Linked DNA regions of Homo sapiens. The protein of the gene in region 2 purifies or fractionates together with the protein of the main gene of each other region. This does not show direct contact. Each region holds a gene or a part of one and is shown on either strand. Other genes may lie near its edges.

Evidence for each region.
Region 1: the proteins of WDFY1 (region 2) and NTPCR fractionate together in Homo sapiens (co-fractionation; one large-scale study listed by BioGRID). This does not show direct contact.

Annotation. Positions count from the first base shown.
Region 1 is NC_000001.11:232,967,299-232,971,116, reverse strand, and holds part of NTPCR (cancer-related nucleoside-triphosphatase), read right to left. Parts: intron 1,209-3,818; coding exon 999-1,208; intron 1-998. UniProt on the Homo sapiens protein: Has nucleotide phosphatase activity towards ATP, GTP, CTP, TTP and UTP. Hydrolyzes nucleoside diphosphates with lower efficiency.
Region 2 is NC_000002.12:223,938,671-223,942,488, forward strand, and holds part of WDFY1 (WD repeat and FYVE domain-containing protein 1), read right to left. Parts: intron 1-3,818. UniProt on the Homo sapiens protein: Positively regulates TLR3- and TLR4-mediated signaling pathways by bridging the interaction between TLR3 or TLR4 and TICAM1.

The DNA.
Region 1 (3,818 bases), on a different chromosome or scaffold from region 2:
AGAAAGGCAAGAATTTAGACAAAGTGCCAGCAATGCCATGAGTCCCTTCCGACTGGCTCAGACGCTGCCACTGGTCAACAAGCCCTAGCCCCTCATCTCTCACATGTGGTCTACAGCAGTGCTTCTCAAAGTGCGGGGGACCTAAAAACCACATGAGAACTTGCCAGAACAGATCATGGGGCCATCCCCCAGAGTTTGACTCCTTGGACCAGGGCAAGGCCCACTCCCAGGTGATGCCCATGCTGCCATTCTGCAAGCCTCACACTGAGTGGCACATCCTACAGATGCACTAGTGAATGTAGCAGCCACACGAGACCACAGAGCACCTCAGATGTGGCCAGTGTGACTGAGAATCCAAATGTTTAATTCAATTTAAATTTGATTATTTATGTGATTAAATAAATAATTCAATTTAAATATGATTAAATTTATTAAACATAAATAGCGAGATGTGGCTAGTCGCTACTGTTCTGAGCAATGCAGAGAGCACATTTCCCTCACTACTGGGAAGTTCAACTGGACGGTGCTGCTCTTCAGCACCTGGAAGCTGTGTCTCCCAACACATCCACAGCCTCTTCTCCCCACAAGCACAAGTGGGTCAGCTTTAAAAGGGAAATCTTTAAAACAAAACAAAAAATATTTGCCTCTGTATCCCAACCTGGCGCCTTTCAATCTGAGAAGAGATAAGCTTAGAACAAGCACCTTAGCTCAGGCAATTCTGATGCCAGAGAGGTCCTAGTGTCTGGTGAGGAGATGGAAGAAAAAAGCAGCCAGAACAACTGGGACCGTCAGGAGGCCCCCCCATAAGCGAGTTTGTTTTTTCATCAAGTAGAGGTATAATTTAAGTTCTATACATTTCTAGAAAATTAGACTCACCTACATTTCAGCATGGAAGGGAAAAAATGTTAACTCAAAACCAAAGAGATATTTTAGAGCCATCTGCTATTTTAGATCATCTGCTCCATTTCCACTGATTATGGAGGACTGGCTGTACTCACATTAAACACCTTCACATCCTTTCTGTTTCTGATTTCTTCTACAAGAGCCAGTGGCTTTCCTTTAGGAACTGGGATTGTGCCAAGGATTATAGTCCCTGGGGTAGACAGCGTCTGACGAACAGCTTGAATGAAAAGCTGACTGAAGAGCTCCATCTTCCCAATCTCATCGATGACGCACACTCTTTGCCCTGGGCCACTGCTGCAGTCGGCCTGAGAATGACAAAGACTTTCACTGGGACATCAGAGTCACATTAATCAAAGGGCCCATGGGTCCCACTCCCCAATCACTCACCAATGAGGTAAAAAAGACAGAAACCTTTTTACTGGATTTCAAAAAGTGACAGCATCCCACAGACCACCGCTGGTACTGTGTGGGAGGGGACTGCACAAGGGTGAGTCCCAGGAGCTGGGAATCATTAGGACTCTTGGAAGCTGGCAGCTATGCCTGTCACCAGTGGGATGTTCAAGGAAGTAACGGACATAAATTGGAATAAAGTCATGAGAAAGAGAATCTGAGATCTAAAGGATGCAATTGTACTTACTTTTTTTTCCCCTTTAGCCAAGACTTGTTTCCTTTTAATTTTCACTTTTTTCCAACAACGCTTATGGACCAGATCATGAAATACACAAACATCTACCTAGAGCAGTTATCTCCCCCCCAGCACGTAGGGAATCTCATATGGCTCAAAATGGAAAAAAGAGGCCATTATTATCAACAAAGGCTCCCATGCTTGCTGTCTCACTTTTTTTAAGCCTGAGGTATTTGGGTGCCACTTATTTTCTGGTTGTATATAAATATAAAGCTTGATCTCTGTCTTGGATCCCCTCTCTCGAATCACTCACTCTGGGGGAAGAGAAGTGCTATGCTGTGAGGATACTCAGGCAGCTGACGGTGAGGTCCACGTGGTGAGGCACTGAGGCCTCATGCCAACAGCCAAGAGGAAATGAACCTGCCAGCAACCACATGAGCAAGCTTAGAGGCAGGGCCCTCCCAGGCAAGCCTCAGATGACCACAGCCCCAGCCAACAGCTTGACTGCAACCTCAGAACCCCAGCTAAGCTGTACCTGGATTCCTGATCCTCAGATACTGTGTACAATAATGTGTTTGTTGTTTTAAGCTGCTAAATTTTGAGATAACTTGTTCCATAGCAACATATAACTAACACACATGTCCTCTATAGAAAGCCTTCCTGGGGAAGGCTGACAGGACTTTGGTTGATTCTTCCCTGGGAGGGACAAAACAGAACATGTAATAAACACTTCAATGAATGGTGAATGACAAATACACCTTATATATGTTTGTATACATGATTATTTTGAAAACTGTATGTAAAGCTGATTTACAAAGTATTCTTCACTACAGTTCTGATTCCTTAAATGATGACAGCAATATAGTCCTAGAGGGCATGTCTGAGTTAAGCTAGATTTTGTTCAAATTCCAAAAGCCAAAGCAGCATATGGTACAGTGTGGCTGGTGGTAGGGATCAGTGGCAACCAGGGGCAGCCAGTGACAGACGGGGCTGCGGGCCCAGATCCTAAAGGCCTTCGAAGGCACACACAGAGGTGGGAATCTTCTCCCACAGCCGAAAGAGTCTAATCCAGGGAGGATCACAAGTTGTGCTAGAAAGACTGCTGGCTGTGGAGTCAGAAACAAATGTTAGACTCCTTTTGGAATAGACAAGATAAGATAGTGGGTGTCTAAACCCCAGTTGTGATTGCACGGAAGCAGTACAGCAGTGTTTTTCAGACTTTTAAGTAAACAGTACTCTATTTTCCTACTGCATATTGTACACTTATGAAATATTTTTCCATTCATTTTATTAGCTAAAAGATCAATAAGGAGTCCACTGTAATCACCCAAGAGAGGTCTGAACAATCTCCGCACTTCTGTGTTTCTGACATGCTTCATTTTTGCCTCTCTATTAAGTTTATCTGTACACACGCCTGGTCTCCCCACTTAGGGCAGGTACATGGTTGTCCTCGTCCGCATCCTTCCTGGGGAACTCACCGATGTCCCAGAGCTGAGAAGTGGGGAGCTGAAGGAGCAATGTCACCCTCCACTGGTGGGGTCGGGGAGAAGGGCAGAGCATCTATGAAGTAAGTCACTACTTATTCCAAGTTTTTCCTCCAAAACGAAAGCCATATTTGGGAGAAATAAAACAGCTATCAACCACCTGTCTATGATAATAAAAACAGACAACTGTACAAGAAGGTTTCTGTCTTCCTGGGGGCATGCCACTCCAACTGACCCGACTGTTCCCAAGTGCTGTGGACATTTTGCTGCCCCCAGAGACGAAGAGTAATTGTGGATGCCATTCCTCTGGAGGCTGTCATCTAAAAGCCAAAATAAAACTTATTCTGGCACCTCAAAATGAGTTTTGGAAGGTGCCAAATCAGACAAGAAGTGATATGAAAGAATGTGTGTACACATGCACATGTATTTATTTGACTATATACATGAGGGTAGTAAAATGCACGTGGCCATGTGTAAATACACACGTACAGGTAGAAAGTGTGTGGCTCTTCAACAACCAGCCTTCCTGCAATCCTCTAGAACATTCACCAGTGAAAGCTCATCAACATTTATTTAAGTTTCAGCACAAAAGAATTTGGACACACATGTATACATTACTTTCTACCAATTGGAAATCCTCATTTTAAAACCTTAGCTTACATAAAATCCTCAATCTGTCCAGAATTGGGGAATTTTATAATCCAAGAACTTCAGGAATCTCAAAAATAAATCTGTGATTTTTAATTAAAAATGCAAGTTATTCATATTCAGTTGAGAGAAAGATGTCAGCTGCTGAGCCACTCTGA
Region 2 (3,818 bases):
CTCCCAGGTGTAATGGCATTAAGCTTTGATATTCCACATTGGCTTAATACTCTTTGGAGTGCTGACCGTATCTAGCTTTGTCATATGCAGTTTGATTACAGTGAACTAGGTGGCTATCTGTGAATGACCCCAGGTAAATATATCCCAGAAGGTGACAAAAAAAAAGAGGATAAAATGTAAGCAGTATTTTTTTTTTTTTTTTGAGACAGGGTTTTGGTCTGTCACCCAGGCTGGAGTGCAGTGGCACGATCTCAGCTCACCTCAACCTCCGCCTACCGGGCTCAAGTGATCCTCCCGTCTCAGTCTCCCAAGTAGCTAGGATTACAGGTGCACACTACCATGCCTGGCTAATTTCTGTATTCAGTATTCTTTCTTGGTGGTTGTACATAGGCAAGCACAGTGACAAATAACCCTCCTTTCTTGTAGAGCCGTGGTTCTAAGTGTGGTCCCTGGACTAGCAGCATCAGCATCAACGTCACCTGGAAACTTGGCAGAAATGCCAACTCTCAGGCCCCACCTGACTTTCCAAATCAGAAACTCTGGGGGTGGGGTCCAGCAACCCGAATTTCAACAAGACCCCCAGGTGATTCTGATGCACATTCAAGTTAAGGAACCAGTGTTCTAGAGAGGCCAGATAAGTACATGAAGCCCGGACTGGGGTTTCTCAATATCAGCACTATTGACATTTGGGGCTCAATAATCCTTTGGTGTGGGGCATAACAGGATACTGAGATGCATCCCTACCCTCTACCTAGATGCCAGTATTAGTTACATACAGTATTAGTCCGTTTTCACACTGCTGATAAACACATGCCAGAAACTAGGTAATTATAAACAAAATGAGATTCAATGGACTCACAGTTCCATGTGGCTAGGGAAGCCTCACAATCATGGTGGAAGGCAGAAGACATGTCTTACATGGTAGCAGACAAGAGAGAAATAGGAACCAAGCCAAAGGGGTTTTCCCTTGTAAAACCATCAGATCTCCTGAGACTTACTCACTGCCACGAGAACAGTATGGGGGAAACTGCCCTCATGATTCAATTATTTCCCACTGGGTCCCTCCCACAACACATGGGAATTATGGGAGCTACAATTCAAGATAAGATTTGGGTGGGGACACAGCCAAACCATATCACCTCCCCCACATCATGACAACCAAAAATGTCTCCAGATATTACCAAATGTTCCCTGGGTGGGAAAACCACCCCTGGCCCAGAACCACTGGCCTAGATTTTACAAAAGTGGATACTAACTTCAGGAAAACCTTCATACCTTTCACTTTTCTTCTCAAAATGCTCTCAGCTAGTTCTCACTGCTTTTAGCGTTTGTAAAATGAATTCACTTCAGCTGGACCCTACTTTAAATGTAAAAAGCTACTGGCTCATGCCTGTAATCCCAGTACTTTGGGAGGCCGAGGCGGGTGGATCACGAGGTTTGGAGTTCAAGACCAGCCTGGCCAAGACGGTGAAACCCTGTCTCTACTAAAAATACAAAAGTTAGCTGGGTGTGGTGGCGGGTGCCTGTAATCCCAGCTACTCGGGAGGCTGAAGCAGGAGAATCGCTTGAACCTGGGAGGCAGAGGTTGCAGTGAGCCAAGATCATGCCACTGTGATGCATGCAGTAAATAAAGATTACAAACAGTCTCATTTGTTCAGGCCAAATTTTAGCACCAAACGAGTTTTCAGGTCCAATTTACACACACACATACACACTTCTGACGTTTAGAATGCACTAAATTTTGGAACTGCTGATAAGAGAAGGTGACTGTACCTACCTTATAGGGAGGAAGTGTGAGGATTGGATCCAATAACACATAAGGTCCAATTCTGTACTCGTAGAGAAAAGGGACTTTCAACAGGTTAGCTATTGTTATTTCTAAATTACAAATTCCGATCATATCATTTGCTTGTTTTGAACTCTTTGATGGTTCTACACTGCCTGCAAAATAAGGTCCAAATTCCTTATTTCTTTCTTTTTTTTTTTTTTGAGACAAAGTTTTGTTCTTGTTGCCCAGGCTGGAGTGCAGTGGCGTGATCTCAGCTCACTGCAACCTCCGCCTCCCAGGTTCAAGTGATTCTCCTGTCTCAGCCTCCCAAGTAGCTGGGACCACAGGTGTGTGCCACCATGCCCAGCTAATTTTTGTGGGTTTTTTTGTTTTTGTTTTTTGAGACAGAGTTTCACTCTTGTTGCACAGGCTGGAGGGCAATGGCATGATCTCGGCTCACTTCAACCTCTGCTTCCTGGGTTCAAGTGATTCTCCTGCCTCAGCCTCCCAAGTAGCTGGGATTACAGGCATGTGCCACCACGCCCAGCTAATTTTGTATTTTTAGTAGAGATGGGGTTTCTCCATGTTGGTCAGGCTGGTCTCAAACTCCTGACCTCAGGTGATCCACCCGCCTCGGCCTCCCAAAGTGCTGGAATTACAAGTGTGAGCCACTGCACCCAGCCAATTTTTGTATTTATAGTAGAGATGGGGTTTCACCATGTTGGCCAGGCTGTTCTTGAACTCCTAACCTCAGGTGATCTGCCTGCCTTGGCCTCCCAAAGTGCTGGGATTACAGTCGTGAGCCACCGCACTTGGCCCCCAAAAACTTTTTTTTTTTAATTTAAAAAACAAAACAAAACCGGACACTGGGTCCTTCTAGCTCTCAGTCTTCTCTGTTGCTATTGTCACTGCCCACCTTTTGCTCTGGTCACTTAGAAATAGCTATGGTTCTTTCCCTCTTACAATTCCCTCCTGTCCTTTCCTCCTTCCTCTGCCTGGGATGAGGGTGCATCCCTCCTTCCTTTCTAGATGCCACTCCTCTATCCATGAAGACCAGCTCAACGACCTTCTCTAGGAGGCTGTCCCCAAACCCCGGCCCCAGCCCAAAGAGCCTCCTCTTCCTGTGTCTTCCCAGCACTGGATGCTGAATACATAGGGGCCATCTCTTCACTAGACTGTTCAGCCCTTGGGAAAGAGCAACTTAGCTGTCAGCTGTCTCTCCCCCACAGGTCTAGCATGGGCCCCACACACGTGCTGGGATTACAGGCGTGAGCCACCTTGCCTGGCCAAGGTAGTGTGGCTTTTGACCCCTGTTGTGTCCTCAGGGCCTGACACTCAATAAAAAAGCTTTTTCTAAATGAATGAGTAAATGAGTGAAGAACGTGACACGTATTTATGACAATGTGAAAACAAACCACCATGGCTAACACCAAGAAAAAACCCACGCCCATGTGCTTTCATTACATCTCATGAAGTGTAGCACCTACTAAAAAGGTTGTTCTCCCTTCAAGGAAGTTGCAAGAGCCTGAACACAACAGAAACCTCAAACGCCAACCCCATCCTGGTCCAGTCATCTACCTGGGCTCTGCAATAACAGTGGTGCACGAGTGAAAAAGTGAGCAGATGCAAGCTCCCCCAGAACGTTTCAGTCCCAGAGCAGCTTAGTAATCACTTTCCAAAAACATTTATCAGCACTGCTCCTGACCAGCAATCTCAAATATTTAGCAACTTACCCAAAACGCATGATTCATGAATAAAATATTTGACCGAATAAAGGCTGCTAACTTTTTTTTTTTTTTGATACGGAGTCTGGCTCTATCGCCCAGGCTGGAGTGCAGTGGCACAATCTTGGCTCACTGCAAGCTCTGCCTCCCAGGTTCACGCCATTCTCCTGCCTCAGCTTCCCGAGTAGCTGGGACTACAGGCGCCTGCCACCACACCTGGCTAATTTTTGAATTTTTAGTAGAGACTGGGTTTCGCCGTGTTAGCCAGGATGGTCTCGACCTCCTGACCTTGTTATCCACCCGCCTCGGCCTCCCAAAGTGCTGGG